3 linked regions of the Homo sapiens genome follow. The protein of the gene in region 2 purifies or fractionates together with the protein of the main gene of each other region. This does not show direct contact. Each region holds a gene or a part of one and is shown on either strand. Other genes may lie near its edges. The genes, in order: SLC10A4, FZD3 and NUMBL.

What was found.
Region 1: the proteins of FZD3 (region 2) and SLC10A4 fractionate together in Homo sapiens (co-fractionation; one large-scale study listed by BioGRID). This does not show direct contact.
Region 3: the proteins of FZD3 (region 2) and NUMBL fractionate together in Homo sapiens (co-fractionation; one large-scale study listed by BioGRID). This does not show direct contact.

Annotation. Positions count from the first base shown.
Region 1 is NC_000004.12:48,486,193-48,490,026, forward strand, and holds the end of SLC10A4 (sodium/bile acid cotransporter 4), read left to right. Parts: intron 1-2,234; coding exon 2,235-2,747; 3' UTR 2,748-3,334; downstream 3,335-3,834. UniProt on the Homo sapiens protein: Transporter for bile acids.
Region 2 is NC_000008.11:28,497,091-28,500,740, forward strand, and holds part of FZD3 (frizzled-3 isoform 1 precursor), read left to right. Parts: intron 1-2,842; 5' UTR 2,843-2,888; intron 2,889-3,650. UniProt on the Homo sapiens protein: Receptor for Wnt proteins.
Region 3 is NC_000019.10:40,687,809-40,692,137, reverse strand, and holds the start of NUMBL (numb-like protein), read left to right. Parts: upstream 1-1,486; 5' UTR 1,487-1,654; coding exon 1,655-1,678; intron 1,679-1,973; exon of another isoform or gene 1,974-2,098; intron 2,099-4,329. Other genes in the region: COQ8B (atypical kinase COQ8B, mitochondrial), read left to right, coding at 1-103. UniProt on the Homo sapiens protein: Plays a role in the process of neurogenesis. Required throughout embryonic neurogenesis to maintain neural progenitor cells, also called radial glial cells (RGCs), by allowing their daughter cells to choose progenitor over neuronal cell fate.

The sequences.
Region 1 (3,834 bases), on a different chromosome or scaffold from region 2:
CTTTTATTAATATGAAAAGTAGAGAGTTCTTTTCTGTGCATATATCCAGGCTTGAGTAAAAGAAATCCTGCTCCATAATACACATGTATATGTGAATGTAAAAATGTATGTGTACATGTAAATATGCATATATTAATACCTGTAATATATACTCATAGATACTCTTGAGATGCATTAAGAACTTGTTAATCTTAATCATTAAGCTAATGCTATTAATGTGATGGCATTTACTATAAAACCTTAGGAAGTCTAAGAGAAAGTCAATCAAATGACCTATTTACACACCCAAAACAAGAAATATATTTAAAATAAATATATTAATAAATTAATATATTTAATATTTAAATATAATAGACATAAGATTAGCTACCTTTGAATTTAAGGTTAACCTAGCCCTATTCTTTAATTAACACACTATTAAGAAACGGTTTATATAATTGTTACACCTTTGCAAACACTTCAAAATGAGCATTCAATGTCAATGCTTGCCCAAATGATTTAAAATAGTTCTAAGGGACTTTGGAGCCAATATTTCAAAATGAAGAAATCAGACTGTTTGTCAGCGCTTTCAATGTGACATACTTTGAAATGGTATGCTTTTACATGTAATAGCCTGGTTTCTGCCAATTATGCATCTGTAGTATCTGTACCTTATATAATAATTATTGCAGCATCCTCTAGGGTAGAATTTGTGACCAGCTCAGATAAATTTTAAATAATTTTTTAAGAGTGTAGAGTTACGCCATTCCCGAAGACTGCAAAAGGGATATCCCAGCTATCCAGGGAACCAGAAGCAACATTTAAGCTGTTCTCTCTGGCTCTAGTTTCCTTTCCCTGCCCACTCCTCATTAAAAAAAAATAAGTTAACTACCAATATGAAGGAGAACGAGGAGAGGAATTTTTAGATTTCCGCCTTACAATTCATACAGACTGTTTTATTTGAATGAGTGAAATGTACCAGTCAGAACATCAAGATGACACGTTTTATACAGAAGTCAGTTGTACTGTATCCGAAATCCATCTATTGTAATAATACGTAAGCATCATTACAGACTTATAGATGGGAGGTTTCTCATGAACAAATAAAAAAGGGGAAAGTTGCCAAATTGCAAAGAATTCTTCACATATTTATTTACATTTTTCTCTCTTACATAATCTAAGAGTAGGTAATTGTTTCAATATTGCAAGCAATCCTCTGCAGTATATTTTGAGGGTTAAAAAGATCACACACTGAGCTTCAGACATTTTAATCAAGTTTCACAAGTTTTAACTCATGTAAAATGAGAACTAATTTCTTATGGAAAACACGGGGTTCAGTTCAGGGAAAGTAAACATCCACTTGTCTGCTCTGATGATCAGACCATACCTGGGGTATTAGGTTCAGTTCTAAATGCCCTGTTTTTAAGAGGCACATTCACATATGAAACACATTCTCAGAACAGTCAGGATACCAAAACAAAGTTATGTGATGGAGGTTTAAGTTTGGGGATGATCTGCCTGAAGAAGAGTAGCCTTCCCCTGATAACCAGTTTTTAAGCTTTTGAAGAGCTGTTTTTCAGGAAAAAAGCTTTTGAAGGCTATTTTTTTTTGAAGAGCTTTTTTTTTTTTTTTTTTTTTTTTTTTTTTTGGTGAAATGGAGTGTTGCTCTGTCACCCAGGCTGGAGTGCAGTGGCGCGATCTCTGCTCACTGCAACCTCCACCTCCCAGGTTCAAGCAATTCTCTGCCTCAGCATCCCGAGTAGCTGGGATTACAGGCATTCACCATCACACCTGGCTAATTTTTGTATTTTTAGTAGAGACAGTGTTTCACCATCTTGGCCAGCCTGGTCTTCAACTCCTGACCTCATGATCCACCCACCTTAGCCTCCCAAAGTGCTGGGATTACAGGTGTGAGCCACCGCGCCTGGCCAGAAAAGCTGGGTTTTTTTGTTTGTTTTTTGTTTTTGAAGAGCTGGTCTCTGTCGCTCCTGAGAGCCTATATCCAACTCAATGGCTAGAGGTTATAGAAGGCAAATTGTCCCTGGACATAAGGACAGGCCTCCAAACAATCAGAGCTGCCCAATGTGGCTCTGGATGCTTCCTGAAGAGGTGGCCTGCCCATCTTCAGAAATATTCTGTCAAAGGTCTCCATTTTGTGTTGGAGAGCATACTAGATGGGTGTTTTCTTCCGTGAGCTTAGGATTCTCTCGCCTGAGTTCATCTTCAACCATCTCATTGTAATTTTCTATTACTAGGTTTCCCTGTGGTCTCTGCTAGTGACTCTGGTGGTCCTTTTCATAATGACCGGCACTATGTTAGGACCTGAACTGCTGGCAAGTATCCCTGCAGCTGTTTATGTGATAGCAATTTTTATGCCTTTGGCAGGCTACGCTTCAGGTTATGGTTTAGCTACTCTCTTCCATCTTCCACCCAACTGCAAGAGGACTGTATGTCTGGAAACAGGTAGTCAGAATGTGCAGCTCTGTACAGCCATTCTAAAACTGGCCTTTCCACCGCAATTCATAGGAAGCATGTACATGTTTCCTTTGCTGTATGCACTTTTCCAGTCTGCAGAAGCGGGGATTTTTGTTTTAATCTATAAAATGTATGGAAGTGAAATGTTGCACAAGCGAGATCCTCTAGATGAAGATGAAGATACAGATATTTCTTATAAAAAACTAAAAGAAGAGGAAATGGCAGACACTTCCTATGGCACAGTGAAAGCAGAAAATATAATAATGATGGAAACCGCTCAGACTTCTCTCTAAATGTGGAGATACACAGGAGCTTCTATCTTGCTGAAATATTGCTTCATATTTATAGCCTGTGGTAGTGCACATGGTTAACATAAAAGATAACACTGGTTCACATCATACATGTAACAATTCTGATCTTTTTAAGGTTCACTGGTGTATTAACCAAACGTTGTCACAAATTACAAATCAATGCTGTAATATAATTTGCACCTGGAATGGCTAACGTGAAGCCTGAATTAAATGTGGTTTTTAGTTTTTACCATCACCAATTTCTATGACTGTTGCAAATACAGAATCTATTAGAAAACAGGGTCTTGGAAATGTAGAATTTTGGCGCACTATGAGGAAAAACAAGCTATCTTTGTAAAGCATAATTGAGTTTAATGTAATTGTTGTAAAAAAAAAAGTGTGCTTGCTCTACTTAAAATTCCTCACAATGTTGAATTTTGACCTGTATTCAGAAGAATTCCAAAACAGGTCAGTTAAATAAGGAAATATAGTATTTGTCAAACCAGTATCAGAGAAAAGTTACATTAATGTATTTGATTACTTGATCTGGTATCTACTTATTAATGAATAATCAACATTTTTCTAGTGGACAAGCCATGTTCTTTTCGACTGGTCTTCTGCATTTATGTAAACACACCCCAAATCAATTTATCTTTTGTAGGAATGATTTGGTTGGGAAATTTTTCAGAACCGCTCTGGAGCAGAACAAAACGGTACCTCCCGGTCACCACTGGGACTGGGGGAAGGGACACGCTCCAGGGGAGAAAACAATTCGCCTAGATGAAGATCCCTGGGTGGTTCTCCATGCACTCGCCGAGGGGGCTCAGTGGGTAGCCTCTTAGAGCAGCTCTGAGAATAAACTTATCATCTGAGTTAACGGGTAATAGACCCAGAACAGTTCCCAAACCTTGGCACTTTCGCTCACTTAGCCAGAGGCACCCGGCCTGGCCTCGGCTTCCCGGTGAGGGAGCGGGGGTGGGGGGGATGCGCAGGCACCTGGAACAATCAGGGCACCGGGAGAAGCCGGCTCAGCTGATGCCGGTGATGAGTTTCTCTCATTGAAATCCTCCTCACCTCGGGCGCCTTGGTT
Region 2 (3,650 bases):
TGAACTGAATTTTGATGCCTACCATTCGTTTAAATTTTGAACCTAGATGGATTTACTTTTCCTCTGTGTGTGTGTTTTAAGCCTTAATCACTTAACACATTGGAAGATTAAGTTATTTGTTGTAATCAGTAGATGATGACAAATGGACTTTAAACATTAGATGAAGCAGGAAAGTTCAGAAAAGAGATACTCTGAGATTAATAGGAATCTAGGTCCTGTGAATTAAATATGAAGCTATATAAACTTTCTTGTAGCAACCAGTAGGCAAAGGGCCAAAGACTATATAGACTTTAAGAGAAGGAAAGTAACATTTGAGCAATGAGTGTACACTGAGTGTATATTTTGTCTAACAAGACAATAATTTCCTTAAGAAGCTCTTATTTAGAGATAGTTATTGCTAATCCTTGCAATGCGTTCTTGAAAACGTGTCTGAAAAAAGACAAAGAATATCCCTCCTGTTCGCTCTGTAGGCACTGTGTAACCAGCATTTACTTTGAAACAACCTTTAGATGATCTTTCTCAATTGGAAATGCAAAATGTTACCTGCATTTATCAGGTGTCAAGAAAATGAAATCTCAACAGAATGATGGAATGGAGCCCTTTCTGTAGAGAAAGTGTGAATTGGAATAGAGTTGCTGAACATAATCTTTTGTTGCAGAACCCCTTTGACAAGCCCTTAGGGCCCTCTTTTCTCATCATCCTTTCTTCTGGGATTCAGCCTGCTTTCCTCTTCACAGTTGCCACCTCCTGCGTTTCCCACCGAGTTCTTTGGGTCTGATTTTGCAGGCAGCCCGGGAAGACAGTCTTCCAAGATTGGAATCCCTTCCCTTTATTGCTGTCTTTCAGGACAAATACTTAGTTGATTTTATTTTAAAGACTTTTACTTTTTGTCATCAAAAGAAACCTGATAAATAATGGTTGGAAATATAAAATTCCTGATGTTATACATTCATAAAAATAGAAATGGGTAAGCTTTAAAGTATCTAGTCCTTTTTGTTTTCTGATGGAATGTTAACCAAGTAACTTAGTCCGAAATCAGCTTTCCAGATATTCTGTATTGCTCTATGGAGAAGTGAATGTGTCTCTTTTCCCATACAAAGGGCGTGAGCAACTGTTGCATAGCATTCACTTTTTGCAGGGCCCTGGCCCCTGAAGCTGCTCACTCCGATTATGTTAATCTAATAGGTCCCCCCCCTTTTTTTTTCCAGTTGATATACTACAGTTTCTTATAATAAAAAAAAAATCAGTAAGAACGCCCCAAATGACTGTTAACTTTTATTTAATGACTTGCTACATTTTGATAGGATCTCTTTGGGTCCAGAATCTTTGCTATGTCCTGCAAGTCTGGAACTTCAACTTACAGCTTTTCCATGGATGACCTTACCTTAGGAAAAATGGCATACTCACATAATTGTGATTAGAAGCAGATAATTCATTATGTTATTGAAGACATATTATTTGGAATGTTTATCAAAAGTTTTTATTTTTTTATTTTATTTAATTTTTTTGAGACAGTCTCACTCTGTCACCCAGGCTGGATGCAGTAGTACAGTCTCCACTCACCGCAACCTCCACCTCTCATGTTGAAGCAATTCTCAAGCCCCTCCTGAATAGCTGGGCCTACAGGCGCATGCCAGCTAATTTTTGTATTTTTAGTAGAGATGGGTTTTTGCCGTGTTGGCCAGGCTGGTCTCAAACTCCTGGCCTCAAATGATCTGCATGCCTTCGTCTCCCAAAATGCTTGGATTACAGGCGTGAGCCACTGTGCCCAGCCAGGAATGTTTATCAAAAGTTTTTAAATTGTGCATACCATTTGATTCAGTTGATTGGTTATCTGATTTTTTTAGTATTGAAAATCAGATTTTGACTCTTACTAAATTGATCATCACTGATTTGCTTTTCTTACTAGGTACAGTAGAGCAGTAGTGTATTCCTTGGCTTGTTGCTTAATTAGTAGTCAATAAACCAGTCATTTCACTAGTATTTTTTCTTGTCAGCCAGTCAGCACATATTTACAGATTTAGCAGAGTTAATTACTTCATACACAAAATAATGTACTATAGGTTCTTTCATAAAATTCCATAAAGCATTTAATATTTTATTTTTAAACAATCGAAATAGTTTTACTGTGTTACATGTACATATATATTTTCTGACAAAATGAGAGATATATACATATACTGTTTTGTAAACTGCCTTTAAATTTTATTTTTTATTTATTGTTACTATCTTACTGTATCCACAAATACAGGTTTATGCTCATCATTTTTAGTAACTATATAATATTCCATCATGTGGTTATACCATAATTTATTTAACCAATTTCTTATTGGTAGACTTTTCAGTTGTTACCAGCTTTTAGGGTTTTTTTTGTTATAAACAGTGTTACACTAATATTTTGGTTGTGCATCATGTGTACTTACGTGTTTACTTAGAATAATAAGATTTGCTGGATGAAATTGTGTACATTTTAAGGGCTTTTGATATAAGTAGCCACTTTTTTTTTTAAGTACCAACTAGTTTACTAATAACATTTGAAAATGTTGAAATATTGAAGGTGTTCTTTACCCTGTACTCCCACCCTATACTGTGTTCTATCATTATTGTTTTTTCCTATCTGGTTGGCAAAAAATCTTATCTCACATTTGCATTTTTTATTATTAGTGAAGTTGAATATCTTTTCATATGTTTCTTGGCTGTTTGTATTTCTTTTGTAAATTTATGTCCTTTGCTTATTTTTCTATTAAAATGTTATCCCCTATCTGCTTTTATTTTTAAAATTCATTTACTGTATATAATTACATAAACAATACCTTTATTCTTTTTAATTATTCTGTTCTAGGATAGCATTTCTCAAGACCTGACTTATGGAGCACTTGTAACCTGAGGTAATCATTAGAATGCATATCATTCTCCAGGATTCAGATTTCCAGGGGAATCCATGAATCTGCTACACTTTACGATTAGAGAACTGCTGTTTTGGGGGAAATGAAAATTCTTTAACACCTATACTTTACCTGTTTTCTTCATGTCTCACTGAATTCCACTGCTGTTTTTTCCCTTCTTTTAATAATCATAAACTGCAGTCTTGCTGTATCAAGATTCTTGTCCTTTCACAGCTTAACAGTAGATTTTACAAAAGCATCTTGGTACATGGTAATTTGAATGTCATAGTACATAAGGAAGCACTTTTATAAGAAGGTAGGATGCTTTACTTGCAAGTAAGGCAAAAGGAATAATCAAAAGGAAACCAGGTAAAATAGATGGAGTAGGCAGAAGTATAGGGGGACATTTCAGCTAGTTTTAAAGGCTCAGTGAGATATTGCTCAGTTTCTTCTTCAGGTTTTATGTGGTAGTCTTCTTTGAACCATTGATTTGAAACCCATACCTGCTTGAAAAATAGATTAGTTTAAATGAAATTTTTGAAATTCTTGTTGTTACTATATGCGTATTCAACAGGGAGTAATGTTCCCTTTAATTTTATTTAGTTGCAAGCAGATGAATATGCTGCATAAGTAATAAACTACAAAGACTGAACTTACATGGATGTTTTAATACTACAATCAAATAAAACTTTCAACAGTTACTTGACATATTTAGTGATATGCATAATTGTTACTGCGCTGCATGGTAATTAAGATAAATATGTT
Region 3 (4,329 bases), on a different chromosome or scaffold from region 2:
CTTCCAGGACACCTACCACCGCTACTGGGCCAGTCGCCAGCCAGACGCAGCCACTGCCGGCAGCCTCCCCACCAAAGGGGACTCCTGGGTGGATCCCTCATGACAGCCTCCATGGGGGATTCAGTCCCCAGAGCAGGCCGTACCCTGCTGTAGTGCCTCTTATCCCTTCCCCGTCTGCCCTGGGTCAGAGGAGCCCCCTTGGGCTTCCCAGTCTTGCCTGGCTCTCCTCCTTGGCCCAGGAGCTCAGGATCCCTGGGGCTGGGGAACTCCCAACTTCGTGCCCTAGATCCTGCACCTCCCCACTCGAAAGTGGGTATCCGAAAACTAAGCCAGGGAAGCGGTTAACTTATCTTTGCCAACATTTGAGGGAGCCTTGGGCCGCTGCATGTCGTTATGCAGATCAGACTCATCAGGGGGAGCCCTCACCTCTGCCTCAAGCCTCCCGTGGAAGGCGAGATGGTCCTGGAGGCAGTCCTCACCTCTGCCTCCCTCGCTCCTCCAACAGCTGCCTTCTCCCGGGTTCCAGCCTCTCAGTGTGTTGGAGAGGTAGGGGTGCGGGGTGGGGGGGAGCTGAATCTTCAATCGGAATAAAAGCAGCCCTCCCCTTCCCCCAGCTCTTTTCTCTGCGCTAGGGTTGGGGGGAGAGGGGGAGGAGCTCGCCAGCGGCCTCCAGGTGCAGATGGCCAGCCCCCCTGCACCCCCTTGTCTGAAAGCCTCAGCCCTGCCTGTGCCATCTGTTGCCGGGAACCTCCTTCTCGCCTTCCCCACCCCCCCCCACGTGCTGACCACCTGCTCTAAGGGCTGTGGCAGCTGAGGCCTCCCACACACACAGTGCCTCTTGGCTGCGGGCTCCCTCCCCTCACTCCTGGCAACCTCGCCTTTACTAATGGGCTCTAATGTCCCTGCCAGCTGCTTTGCCAAACCCACAGGATTGGCGTAGGGGGCGGCGGGGGCGCCGTAGCGGCCAGAACCGCGCCCTGGTCCCACCCCGGCGCCCCCGTTCCCAAAGCCGAACCGATCGCGCATCAGGACGCCTTGGTCTGTTCACACCCCCTCCCCTTCCTTGCAAAAAGTGCCTCGTCACCGCTCCTGCCCGCCCCCGCCGGGCTGGGGAACCATGGGGTTAGCGGGAAGATTTGGGGGTGTGGGGCGGCAAGGCGCCTCTAGAAGCAACTCTTTCGGACGCGGAGCTGGAGGGGATCTGAGGTCAGGTGTCACGGAGGGAAAGGGAGCCCAGGCCAGGACGGACCGGGGGAAAGGACTCGGCGATGTTCATAGGCATGCTCAGCTCGGGACTGGCCAATGGGCGTGGCGGGGCGGTGGCCGCGCCGGGGAAGGCGGGATGGTGTCTGCGTGTGGGCGGGGTCTTCAGGCCAAGGGGCGGGGCGGGGCGGGACCTTTCTGCATATACGGCAGGCGGCGGGCCAATGGGCGGGGTCGGGGCGGGGAGCCGAGGCCGAGGGACGCTCCCCCGCCCCCGGAACGGAATCCTCCCGGGAGCCGAGGAGGCTCGCGCGCGTGCATCCCGCACCATCCCCCGGCCCCGGGCCCTGGCCGGCGTCAGACCGAGCTGCCGCCGCCACCACCGCAGCAGCAGCAGTCGGGGAGCCAGGCCCAGCCAGGGCCGCGGGAGGCGGGGGCGCCCGGGCCCTGGATGTCCCGCAGCGCGGCGGCCAGCGTGAGAAGGGCGGGAGAGGGGGGCTCGGGTCGGGGGCGGCGCCGCTGCTGATGTGGCGGAGGGTGGGAGGCGGCCGCGGCGCCCGGATGGAGAGAGGGTGCCAAGGCTGGAGAGGGTGGTCCCGGGTGGGGGTCCAGGAACAGGCCCAACAAGCCAAAGCCCAGGAGACCGGGGTCTTGGGCACAGACCCCTGGGCCATCTCTTGCCAAGGCCCTGGAAATAGGGATCCTGGACACAGACCCCCCACAAAACCAAGGACAGGGGTACAGAGATTCTAGGTACAACTCCTAGAACTAGATGGGGATGGAGATGGGGTCGGGGACACAGCCCCCGTATCAAACCAAGGCCTCCAGGACGCGATTCCAGACACAATCCCTACCTCTCCCTGCCTAAGGGGGTCTCAGCACAACAACTGCCTAGGTACGGTCTCGAGGATGGGGTCACTGGGTACAGCGTTCCCACCACGCCAAGGCCTAGGGGGACTCCAAGCACAGCCTGCCCCCAGGTCTCAGAGGCACCCTGGGCACAGCATCCCCCCAATCCTTGGGCGGAGTCCCAGGCACAGCCACTTCTCAAAACAAGGTCCCTGTGCCTGGGACTCCACCCCACCCCAGCCTGAATAAAATAAGGACAATTTCAGGCAACCCCCAATCCCTCCACCCCCTGGCTTGGTCATGGGTCCCAGGGCACAGGATCCCTAGGCCACCCCCTTTGTCCCCAGGGCTGCCCAGCTGTCCAAGAGTGGCCCCACCCGCAGACAATGCACCGCTTCCCCCTCCTGGACCTGGCCCTCAGGCTCCAGGATACAGGCTGGGCTGGGGGCGGCTCCCCAGGGACCGGGTGCAGCCCTGTCTGTCTGCAGTGTCTGCGGTGACGGTGACGGCGGCTTTGTGTGTGGTACCTGGGGGGAAGGGGGGAAGCAAGCGATGGGGAGGTGGCTAGGAGTGTGCCCTGTGTTTGTGTGACTGTGGCTGTGTATGTGTGTGTGTGTGTGCACGCGTACGCTGCAGCTGGTGACTGAGGAATCCTGTGTCGTGTGTGTGTGCTTGTGGTGGTGTCTATGATTGTGTCTGTGACCCTAGTATCTGTGTGACTGTGTATGTGTGTGTGACAGCTGCTCACTGTGCAGAATCCTGTACTTTTTAGTCTGTCTGTGTTTGGAGGTGTGCATGGTTGTGACTGTGGTTGTCTGTGATTGTGTCTTTTGTGACCCTGTGTTTGTATGCCTCGGTAACTATAACTGGGTATGTGACAGTATGTGTTGAGTCTGGGGGTGGGCATGCGTGTGACTGACAGGACGTGGGTGGAGTTGTGACTGTGTGTGAGTGGAGTTGTCTATGGCTCCATGTGCATGTGTGACCCTCCCAGTGACTGACAATGTTTATAGTTGTGTCTCTACCTGATTTTATATACGTGAGTGACACACACCTGTCTGTGCAACTCTGCCTGTGTGACTGCCATTGTGTCTGAAGTCACATTGTATCTGTGTGACTGGGGTTGTGTGACAGTATTGTGTATGACAGTGGTTGCGTATGCAGAACCATGTCTGAGTGTGTGACTGAGGTTGTATTAATATAAATGACTGTATCTAGCAGTGTGTGTGATAACGAGTGATTGTGTGTATTTCTAGCCTTGCATGTGTGATTTGGGTTATGTATTTGACTTGGTGTCTGAAACCCTGGCTATTTAGAGGGATTATTTGTGTGTGACTAAAGCTGTGGATGTGTCTCCGTGCTGGTGCCAGGAAATTATGTTTGTAGGGGTGTGTATATGATTATGGCTTCCATATTATTGTGTTTGACCTGCATGTCTGACCCTGGGTGACTATAGATGTCTGTGTCTATGTCATCATCTGTGAGAGTGTGGGGTCTGTAGCTGTGTGCCTGTTTTTGTCTCTGTGTGTATGTGCTGGACTACCTGTGTTAGAATGTGTGATTTGGTGATGAGATTGGCCCCTGACTGTGCACATGGCTCCGTCAGGACCTGTGTCTTCTGTGTAAACCCAGCTATAAATGCCACATCCTGGTCACTGCATTTATGTGCATACACTGGACTGTGTACTTGTGACATGGGAAACTAAAACTGTGTGCTTATGTCTCTATGTGTGAGATATGTGTGTAGGTGGGGCTTGTGACTTTGTGCACCTGTCCACACGGGGCTGTGATTCTATATGGCCACATACTTGTCTGTGTGACTTGTGTGCCTGCATGAAGAAAGGCTATATGTTTCGCTGCATTGGAGTGACATGGTACAGCTGTGTATGGACACTGGGTGACGGGATTATGACCATGATAGGTGGCTGGGTCACATGGACATTGATGCTGTGGCCATGCCTATAGGACCACCATGGCTGTGTCTTGAGGGAGGCCATCCTTGGGGACAGTTGTTTGTGGGTGGTTGCATGCTGTGGCCATCAGTACCTCTGTATGTGGTTGTGTATAGAGGACTGTCCCTATGAGTGTGGCTGTCACAATAGACTGTGTGACTGATGCTGTGACCAGATTTGAGCACCTATGACTGAGTATGTGTGACCACGTGACAGTGTGTGGCCAAAAACAGTGTGTTGGTGTGACTGGTCTGGTTGAGGCTGCATGTGGTCTCCGTGGGACCAAATGTGTGTCTGTCCGTGTGCATCTGTGACCAGATGTCAG